Homo sapiens: one gene and its partners. The protein of the gene in region 1 interacts with the protein of each later gene in a biochemical or structural test. Each region holds a gene or a part of one and is shown in the gene's direction. Other genes may lie near its edges.

Region 1 (3,500 bases):
ACTGTAATAACTGAGTTTAGCATTTCAATGTTACTCTATGAACTTTCATTAAACTAGTAATTTTCCTTATTTTTAAATAGAACATATGTACTAGTTTATTAAATAATATTGAATATCTCCTTATTATTACTTTGAATATTGAATACCCCCTTATTGTATCAGTTGTGGGCAAACAATTACAAATTTATTTTCTGTTTTTCATCAGCTTTTTGCTGTGTCCGACAGAGAAACCTCATGCCTTACATGTCAAATAAAACCCAACTTAAATTAGGCAAACAAGCAAGTAATAACCGATTGATTATATTTTTTGGAAGTTTATTTAACTTACTATTCTTTAAAAAACGTTTTCTTTAGGCACTCGAAGACTCCAGCTTCCTGAAAAGAAGTGGCAGGGACAGTGGCTACGGTGACATCTGGTGTCCTGAACGTGGAGAATTTCTTGCTCCTCCAAGGCACCATAAGAGAGAAGATTCCTTTGAAAGCTTGGACTCTTTGGGCTCGAGGTCATTGACAAGCTGCTCCTCTGATATCACGTTGAGAGGGGGGCGTGAAGGTGTGTTGTGTTTTGGCTGTCAGTTTATTTGTTCACATATTAAGGGAGAACTGGGAACAGGAGAGAATAGAAAAATGGAGCAAAAACTAGGCAAAAATTTCACTTAGAAGTGGATTTTCATAGAGACTGGAGTATAATTGGGGGTTTTGTTATTTTTTTCTCCTTCATGATGGTGATAGTTTCATTTTTGAAAAATTTCATTTCTGGAAAGGACTGAGAGGTGACAGTTAATTGTGGCCTGTTTTATCAGTGATAATCTATCCTGGCTCTTCTCTCTCCAGATTCAGGCTTAATTTGTGTTCAAGAGTTCTATAAACTGATATATCTAAACATAGAAAGGAATATAAGATTCTGCAAAAAAAAAAAAAAATCTTCTAGTTTCTGAGTAACTTTCATCCTTGGCTTTTTTCAAAAGATTAAAAAAACTCTCTTAAGCAAAAAAAGAAAAATATTTTTACAATTATTTCTATAGATGAGAAGAAATGATTGCTATCTATCATGATAGAATATTATGTTAAACTTTGTAGATTGAGTAATATACCACCACCTAACATGCAGGTAGAAATCCTCTTTTGGTCCTTTCAGAGTCAGAGCTAACCCAGGACAGAGCAAGTGTGAAAGGAACATGTTAGAGACATTCTGTTGCGGGAAGGAACCTTCTTTCAAAATCCCAAGCTTATGGTCAGTTCAGTTATTTCAATGCACATCTTATTCCTGTGGCTACTGGGTATAGCGTCAGCAATTTCTGAGTGTACATCTCCAGCTATTCAGATTTGACTAGATTGAAACCACAAGTGAAGTTTTTTTTTTGAAATATTTCTGTGCTTCTATCGACATCAATGTGAAAACATTGAGTTCTGGCTGTGATTTGTGCTTAATTGTTAGGGATTTTACATTGCTTGTGTATTTGGAATATTACTTTTCTATTTCTAGATATTTTTCCTAGCATATCTATGACAAAAATGTCAAAAATCAGCAAACTTAAAATAATTGTACAGCGAACACACATGTATTCGCTGCCTAATTCCACCATGATGTTTTACTATGCATGCTTTATCTTATACTCATCTCTCTCTCCTCTCTCTCTCTTTCTCTTTCTCCCTCCCTCCTTTCTCTATTATAATTTAGTCATCTTATTTTTTGAGGCATTTCAGAATATATCACACTTGTCCTAAATACTTCAGTATGAACATCATTAACTAGAATTTATTCTTTGTTTTACTTCTGATGTGAAACTTATATAAATACAACATGCTATGAATTTGTTTTCCAAAAAACCAATCAACAATTTATTAAGCATGGTAACAAAAAACCTGAAGGCTTTATCTTTTAGAGTAGTAGTTTTTAAAAATAAAAAATGTGAAACGCTATTTCAGCATTAACCTTTATAATTACTGCCACACGTATTGGCTGTTTGCTGTCAAGGTGTGACATTTTCATAGCCCAGATGACGATTCCAATACGTTTAAGGAAATGAATCTGAGTATGTGATTCATCTGAGTGGTTAAAGCTGTAAAAGCAGAGGCTGAAATTCTGAACCCGCTGTATTTCTTTTCCCTTACTGAAGAACCTACTCCATGTAATGACAGAATTTATATCTAGTCAAGGAATAAAAGGGGAAGGGATAGAGGGCATGTGGGAATATGCAGGCTTCAGTCAGTTCAGATGCAGTGGCCCACCCAGCGGTGTGGAATCTAAGTCGTCTTCTCAGATCCTTGTTGGAATGGGCACCTGTCCATGTAACCAAAAGCAGAAGGCCACTGTCACATCCCTTTCTGATCTTGGAAATGGGGCTGCAGACCTTGTTTAAAGAGTGCGTAAGTGAAGTCTTGGAAATTACAACTAAGCGGGGAAAAAAAGCCTGGGATGGAGGCACCAGGCCGATAAAGCTCTTTTGTGATCAGTGTGTTAAAATTCTACTGCTACTCTCTAGATTGTAGTCCTAAATTGATGAGCACTATAATGTAGGGTAATATTTTTAGGATAACAGAATTGCAATGTCACATTCTCTAGTTTTACGTGAAAACTCATATCAAGAATGATACTTTGGGGGAAAAAATTCTCTGCAGGACACCGTACTGGGCTAAAAAATACTTTTTCTTAAAAGTTAGAAAGTAAAATAGTCTCTTTATGACTTTAAAATTCCACATGTATGGATTTCGGCAGGAGTAATTGATATACTTATTGGAAATGAGAAATAAATGTCTGATTTTTTAGAAGGTGGTAAAAAGAAAGCACCAGTTTATTGACTACTACTCCTCATGGTCACAGCTGCGTTTACTTTCCCTCTTTTGCCAAGACTCTACTCTCCTTTTACTCTGTCCCTGTCTCATAGCTGTATGTTAAGCGACTTCCTGTAGACTGTTCTCAGTGTTATTTACTGTAGCTTCCTGCCAGGCAGGAGGGAGGGGAAGAGACTGCATTTAACTCAGGTTAACCCTGCAGGTGCTCTACCTGCTGAGAGCTTGTAGCTGTCAGGCACTGTGCACAGCCAGGCCTGGAGAGAACCCTGGTGAGAAGCAAGTAACATTTCCAAACCTTTACAAGTGCACAGGAGGCAGGAAGAGAAGGGTGTGAAAGAGGGACAGCTTGGCTTGGATCTGTAGTGTTGTTCTCCCCCCTTTTCTTCCTTTGTCTTTAAAAGAGTAGATTCATTCTTCTTCTTTTAAGAAAGCAGATTACTATTTGTATCTATCTGACCTTGAGGAGTATCAAAGGGTGTTCTTTTGAATTTGTGTTTAAATGATTTTGAATCATAATACAGCGTTCCCAATATAATTTCCATGGCCACTCTGAAGAAACTGTGAGTTCTGTGCTCTCATTTGGGCATAAGACTTCAGATTCCTTTGGAACTTTAGAAGTCATCCAGTCCAGCCTCATATCTAATGTGTGATTCTGGTTTATAGAATCTATCCAGACCCTTTACAAGCTTGTTTTTTTTTTTCTT
Region 2 (3,500 bases), on another chromosome or scaffold:
GTGTGGAATAATCCAAATGCGCTCTACAAGAATTTACTGCAATGATGAATAGAAGTTACATCATAAAAGGGATTTTTCCACCCAGTGGTCTAGAAAGAAGAATAAAGGGATTCTATTACCAAGAACACAAGATCAGAGCAGGCAATAAAAATTCAAATCTCAGGTGCCTTTGGTTAGCAATTGACTACAGACTCCTTAGAAATTAAAAAGATCGAGTAATTTGAGTCACTGTTTTAGAAGTAATTTAAAGAGGATAATCCTAGTTAGTCTGCTTCCTGAATTGATAAACTAAAAGGCTTTAATTTTTTGCTGAAGTAAACGAAATAGTACCCTCTCTGGTCCTTAAGGCTTGTTTAGATTCAGATATACACCATAGTAAAACCTCTAACTGCTCCAATTTTAGCTTTACCTGGTGAACTTTCAGAAAAGTGAATAAATATTTTTCAACTCTTTAACAATTTATTTCTTTTCATACATACTATGTGTTTTGGTTCTTACTCTGAATATCACAGAAAAAATAAAATGAATAAGTAACCTTTTGCCTTCAGGCATTTGCTTCCCAAATTCATCTTTTGTCATCCTTCCAGAATGACATTTCTTAGTGCCAAATTTTAATGTCCACACAAATAACTGGGCAATCTTTTAAAAATCTTTTTTTAAAACCTGAATTGGTAGGAACAGGATAAAATTCTGCATTTCTAATAAGCTCCTAAATGATACTGATGCTTCTAGTCAGTAGATCACATTTTGTGTAGCAGGTTTCCAAAACATCTGATCACATCAATCTTTTATGTAATTTGCTTAGATTGGCCCGGATGGTTGATTTATTCCTTGAGCCCTGTTCTACTGATGGCCCTGCACTGAGTGAAGGGCCAAAGAGAATCAAGGTAAAGGGTGATACATTATATCATGAGAGAAAAACAAGGAGAAAGAGGTAACTGGTGCAGATAAAAGAATAGAGCAGATATGAGCAGGCAAAACATTATATATCATGATGTTTTGATGTTTTTCTCACTCTAGATTATTATATAAAAATATTTTAGAGCTGAAGAGGCATAGAAATGATTTGGTCCAAAGTTTTGTTTGGGCTCCCAGGTCCTGATGCAACTTGAGAGACAAAGTTTATATTTGATAGAGAGAGTATACTAAGTTTTCACAGGAAGTAGCAGAAAACCATGACTCCAAATTCACATTAATTCTTCCAGACCATTCTAGGTATATAAATTATTTATTGGATTGGATGCCTTAAAATGGCTTAAAAGTTCTCTTACTTCCATTGAAAACCTTTATCCCAAACATCACAGGTTTGCCCTAATTATTTGAGTTACATAAATTTCCAGACAAATGACTTCGCTGAACATAATCTTAATTTACTTCTTTTGCCTCTTTTTGCATTCCTTCTTTTCAAGATTCTAGAACAAATATCATCCTCCGTCTTTATGTTATTTGTATGTGGCAACTTTGTTGAAATTCTATTAGTTTTAATTGATTTTCCATGGAAACTGTAGAGTTTTGTGGACAAATTGTCTAAAACAAAATATAATTTCGTATCTTTCTTTGCAACTCTTAGATTTTTGTTGTTGTTGTTGATATTACCTTATTACATTAGCCTCAGAACTGTGTTGAAGAGAAGCATTTACAATGGACATCTTTCTCTTGTGTTTGACCTTGATGCAAATACTTTTAAAATTTTAGTATTAAGCAATATGCTTGCTTTGTGGTTTTGATAGATACACTTTAAAAGCTGGTTTGCTCAGATTTGTTTTTTCCTAACATAAATCAATGGTTAATTTTATTTAGTACTTTTACAGTGTCTATTAAGTTAACCATGGAATTATTCCCCTTCCATTTGTTATATAGGGATTTAATTAATAATTTATTGTTAGTTGGTGGTACTCTTGTACTACTATAATGAACTGCGCTTGGTTGGGATATTTTTATTTGTATATACTATTCCGTTTGCTAATAATTTGTTTAGGATTTTTACATCTATCTTCATAATCAAGTTTGGGCTCTAATTGTCTTTTCTTATATTGTCCTTGTCCAGTTTTGGTTTTAAGAAAATAGTAGTCTTACAAGATGAATTGAGTAGCTTTCTTTTTTTTCTGTTATCTCGAGTGTGTCTGTGTGTGTGTGTGTGTGTGTGTGTGTGTGTGCATAGACAGACAGAAAAAGAGAGGAGAGCAAGAATATGTTACTTTAAAGTTTGGTAAGACATATTTCTAAAACTTTCTGTACCTGTTTTTTTGTGAGAGGCTAATGATGGTAGATATGGAATAATTTTTATATCCAATTTCATTTTTTAAAGATTTTGTATCATCATTTATATTTCAAATGTATCTCCTGACAACTCAGAAAGGATACTAAGGAAGCAAAAACTTTGATAGATACAGTATATATATGGTATATAGATATATATATATATCTGTATTACAGGTACTGAACTCATATTGTCTTGTATATGACATGCCCATTAACGTAACACAGAAATAGCTTGTAAACAGAAGTGTTTATTGTGTGGTATTGGTGGAGTGTAGGCGAGAATAGGAGAGAATTACCTATAAAGTGAATGTCAACTTTCATTTTATGTTGGTTCGTTTATTGTGGTACATTAACAAACATATAGATAGAATTATCAAAATAATATGATACACAATGTCTTCTACTAAATACTTAAATTTCAAATGAGACATCTTGTGCTAAATTATTCGTTTTTTAATATGAACATTAAGAAGAGCTTAATTCTTCTTGGAGCCATAAAGACTAGGACCACTGTGCAAGTCATGTTTCTCACTATCATTCTTATTATCCTCAAGCCCACAAAAATTACTGCTTTATTTCCAGTTTACTAAAGCTGGCAATGTGCGTGAACAGTAGTAAATTAGATGATTGCTTACAGATGTAGGGAAACATGCTTTGCTCAAAAATTGGAAATGAGGAGAACTTCAAAGCAAGGCCACCCATTAGCCATCACAATCAATTGCTGGGAAATTGTTAAGATCTTACTGTATTTAGCATGGTACATCTTAAAAACTAAATATCTCAAATAAATATAGCTAAAGCTTTAAAGCCCCTTGAAGTCTAAAACCCTAAACAATGTTTATCAAAGCATGTTCTAGGAATCATCTCCATCAACACACTTGAGTTAGTATTACAAATGCAGATTTCTTGGCCTGACCTCAGATCCATGGAATCAGAAACGTTTGGTACTTGCCAAGAATCGCATTTTTAACAAGTTTTCATTTCCTTAACCGTTTCCTGTCAGTATTTTTACGCACAGCAAAGCGTGAGAAATATTACTTGAAACATGTTTAATCACTTATCACCATCATCAACTAAAAGTAACGTGTCACATGCTTCATTAGAGACATTTTAGAAAACCATAATTTCTACTTTCAAAAAAACCCAATATTTTTAAACCATTTTTCACAAAAGAGATAAATGGGCACATTTTATAGAGATTTTGTATTTCATAAAATTTGCTTTATAGGCATATGTTG
Region 3 (3,500 bases), on another chromosome or scaffold:
CCTTATTCTTAAAATACAATTTTTTTTAAGATTTAAAATAAAATTAAGAATGGAAGGGTATATGTGTTGGTGAAGAGGATATTACTAATGAAACAAAAACAGAATCCTCTTAAAGAGAAGAAGTACTTCAATGTCACAAAGACCCATTAATTTTCCTGTCAAAACACAACCAAAAAAAAAAAAACCGATTTTTTTAAAAGAAGAAAAAATGAAAGAAAATCCTTCTAATGGGAGTTGACTCAAATTCACTCAAAAACTTTATTCTTTTTATTTTATTTATTTATTTTTAATTAATTTTTAACTGATGCATAATAGATGTACATATTTTCAGGGAACATGTGATAATTTAATATATTTATATAATTTACCAAAAGATTTATTCTTAATATAGAATTTTTGTAATTTGAGAACAAATAGAAAAGATAGGTAGGGGAGAAACACAAAGCCAAGAAAGTCCTCTTAAACAAAAGTATTCTCAGCCTCAACAAAGCCCCTTTTTTTCTCAAAACAAGCAAATACATTTAGAATTATGGGGGGCGGGAAGGGAAGAACATGAACAGTATATTTTAAAGAGAAATATTTTTCTTAAGGAATGAAGATGCCCCCAAACTCACCAAAGTCCTTGAATATTTTTCTGAAAACAAAAAAGAAACAAAGAGAAGGAGAGAGGGAGAAAGAAGGAAGAGAAGGGAGAAGGAGAGAGAGAAACAGAGAGAGGAAGGGAGGGAGGAGGGGAGAAGGAGAGAGGGAGAAAGAAGGAAGAGAAGGGAGAAGGAGGGAGAGAAACAGAGAGAGGAAGAGAGGGAGGAGGGGAGAAGGGAGGGAGGGGGAAAGCCGGACAGGTAGAGAGGAGAGGAAGGTAGGAGCAGGTAGGGAGAGACTGAGATAGGGAGAGGAAAAAAGAGGGAGAGAGACAGAGGAAGGGAGGGAGCCAGAGAGAGAGACAAAGGGAGAGGTGGAGAGGGAAAAAGAAAGAGGGGGAGAGAAGGGAGGAGAGGGAAAAAGAAAGGGGAGACGGAGGAAAGGAGAGGGAGAGAGGAAGGAGGATGGGGGGAGAAATGTGAAGGGAAGGGGAAAAGGACTAGGTAGGATAGAGTGAAGGTGGCAGAGAAGGAGGGGTGGGAAAGAGGAAGAAGAAAATTAACAAAGGGATTATTTTTTAAAGGATCAAAGAAAGAAATTCTCTCCAGGAAAATGCACCAACACCTTACTGCAGACATTGCGTATTATTCCTGATGACTACCCTCTCCATCCCCCACAATAAGGAAAAAAAAACCACACACACACAAAATCTCTTTCTCAAGCTTCTTCAAGGTGGGGAATGTGCGTGTGGGGGGGGTGGTGGGTATGTACCCAATCTCACCCTATCCCAGGGACCTTATGTATCTTTCAGCCTTCACTGTTTCATTAAAAAAAAAAAAAAAAAAAAAAAAAAAAAAAAAAGCAAGGAAAGGAAAAGAAAATCTTTCCAGGAGAGATGTCTCCCATTCTAATTTTTCCCAATAAACTGTTTCTTTTAAAGAAAAGGAAAGAAAGAAAAATCCTACTAGGGAGGGCTCCCCAGCTTCATTAAAACAAGTTGCCCTTGTAGGTCCTCTCCACAAAACCTATTTTTTAATGGAAATCCTCCAGACCTAAAGAGAGATGCTCCCCCACCTCCACCAAAAGCAATGAATCTTTTCCCCTGGAGATTTTTAAAGAAAAAAATCTTCCATTGTAAGAGGAGATACCTTCAACTTTACTAAAATCAATGGACTTTATTCCTCTCCACATCCAAGAGGAGAAAAAAAATATTTGAGGAAAAGGGAAGAAATCCTCCTAATCTAAGGCAAGTTGGCTATAATCCCTCCAACACCATTGAACTTTCTTCCTGAGATTTTTTAAAAGAAAAAGCAAAGACAGAAAAAAAGCCTCAAAAAAAAAAAAAAAAAAAAAGCACTCACTTCTCCCACAGGCTCCACAGATCTGAAGTGTTGTACAAAGAAAAGGTACTATCCCTCTCAAATGGCACCAGTGAACTTTACATTCAGCACTAAGGCTAAAGGATGATACATTTTAATCCCAGGCTGGCTTCCCGCTGCCCCAGTCTATTTCTGGTTACCTTCCCCATCATCCAGGTAGGCAACACTCCCAAGAAAGGCACTGTCCAAAAGAAAAAGAATTAGGAGGCAAACCTTCTGGGGAAAAATCATACCTCTTTTCCAAACCGAACAAATGATTTGGGAATTCGCTGCGTCATTGTTCCCATCTAACACTACAGAGAATTAAGAGTTGATGATAAACTCAAAAGCAGTGACACTCTTGCTATTAACTACCAATTAGTCAGACACCCCTACCTAACAGGGAAGGACCCTTCGCCAACTCAGTAATGGAGGTGATCCATCCTCCATTATGTTTCATTATGTGCTGGCTTTGATGTCTGTTCCTGCAGGGCGATAAAAGGGCTTGATTTTCACAAATCCATAAAATTTGCAAATCATATTTATAAGCAGAGAGACTCAATTAATGTTTTCCAAATTTTAAAATTCATTTATTTCTTTAAAACGTAAACTGATACCTGCTCCCTATGTGCTATGTGTTTAACATTGTGCTAACCACTGAGGATTCTACAGTGAACAAAACCACATGGATGAGACTACCTTTAAGCAAAACTGGTAAATGAGAGACTCAATTACCAAAACAAATATGCAGATGGTGGTTATTTGTTTTACCAGATGCTTTGCCAAGGTATTCACTATTAATAGTCAGTTCTCTCAGCATTCCTCTACTTAAACTAAAATTCAATGTAATAAAATAAAGGAATGCATGCTAATTTCAGAGAATGTGGAAAATCAAGAAAGCTTCTAAAAAGTAAATAAAAATCATCTAGTACCCCACCACTCAGAGATAATCACTGTTAATATTTTGCTATATTTTTCATTTATTTTCTCTGAATATTTGCTTATAGTCTTCTGTAGTAAGACTTTGGGGAATGCACAATTGTGTCTCGGGCTTCACCCTGCCCCAGTCACAGCCCCACACGCTTAATTATTAGATCGTGTTCATTATTCTACCTTGGATTTAGGAAACACTTGTTCATTTTAGCTTAAAGTTCATCTAGTCAAACTCCTGTCTGATCTGATTGTTAAACATATGCTTGAATCACAACCATTCAGGGGCATATTTGCTGTGTGAAGCAGTAAGTATATAGATTTTATGTAGACACAATTGTTGCAGTTGCTCCCATATACAAATGCAGTTTGATCTCACATTTACTTACTGCACTTTTTTGGACACTTAGATTTTATTTGTCCAGTTAGCTTTTGTGACTTGGCCTTGGAGAAGGAGATCCAGAACAAAACCAACCTTATCTTCCCACTGTTAAATTCCCAAAGGGAAAAAATCTAAATTTCTGAGTCACTTTTAACTATATGCCAAAAAAAAAAAAAATTAGTGATGGCTTTGTCTCTTTAACAAGAAGTTACAGCATTATGCTAAACTGGGTATGCCATACCCAGAAG

Evidence for each region. Proteins that work in one complex are often made in the same cells at the same time.
Region 2: the proteins of LMO7 (region 1) and SLCO1C1 interact in a test that uses a peptide from one of them, tested with the Homo sapiens proteins (one large-scale study listed by IntAct).
Region 3: the proteins of LMO7 (region 1) and DGKK interact in a test that uses a peptide from one of them, tested with the Homo sapiens proteins (one large-scale study listed by IntAct).

Annotation. Positions count from the first base shown.
Region 1 is NC_000013.11:75,800,330-75,803,829, forward strand, and holds part of LMO7 (LIM domain only protein 7), read left to right. Parts: intron 1-354; coding exon 355-553; intron 554-3,500.
Region 2 is NC_000012.12:20,701,832-20,705,331, forward strand, and holds part of SLCO1C1 (solute carrier organic anion transporter family member 1C1), read left to right. Parts: intron 1-3,500. UniProt on the Homo sapiens protein: Mediates the Na(+)-independent high affinity transport of organic anions such as the thyroid hormones L-thyroxine (T4), L-thyroxine sulfate (T4S), and 3,3',5'-triiodo-L-thyronine (reverse T3, rT3) at the plasma membrane.
Region 3 is NC_000023.11:50,460,826-50,464,325, reverse strand, and holds part of DGKK (diacylglycerol kinase kappa), read left to right. Parts: intron 1-3,500. UniProt on the Homo sapiens protein: Diacylglycerol kinase that converts diacylglycerol/DAG into phosphatidic acid/phosphatidate/PA and regulates the respective levels of these two bioactive lipids.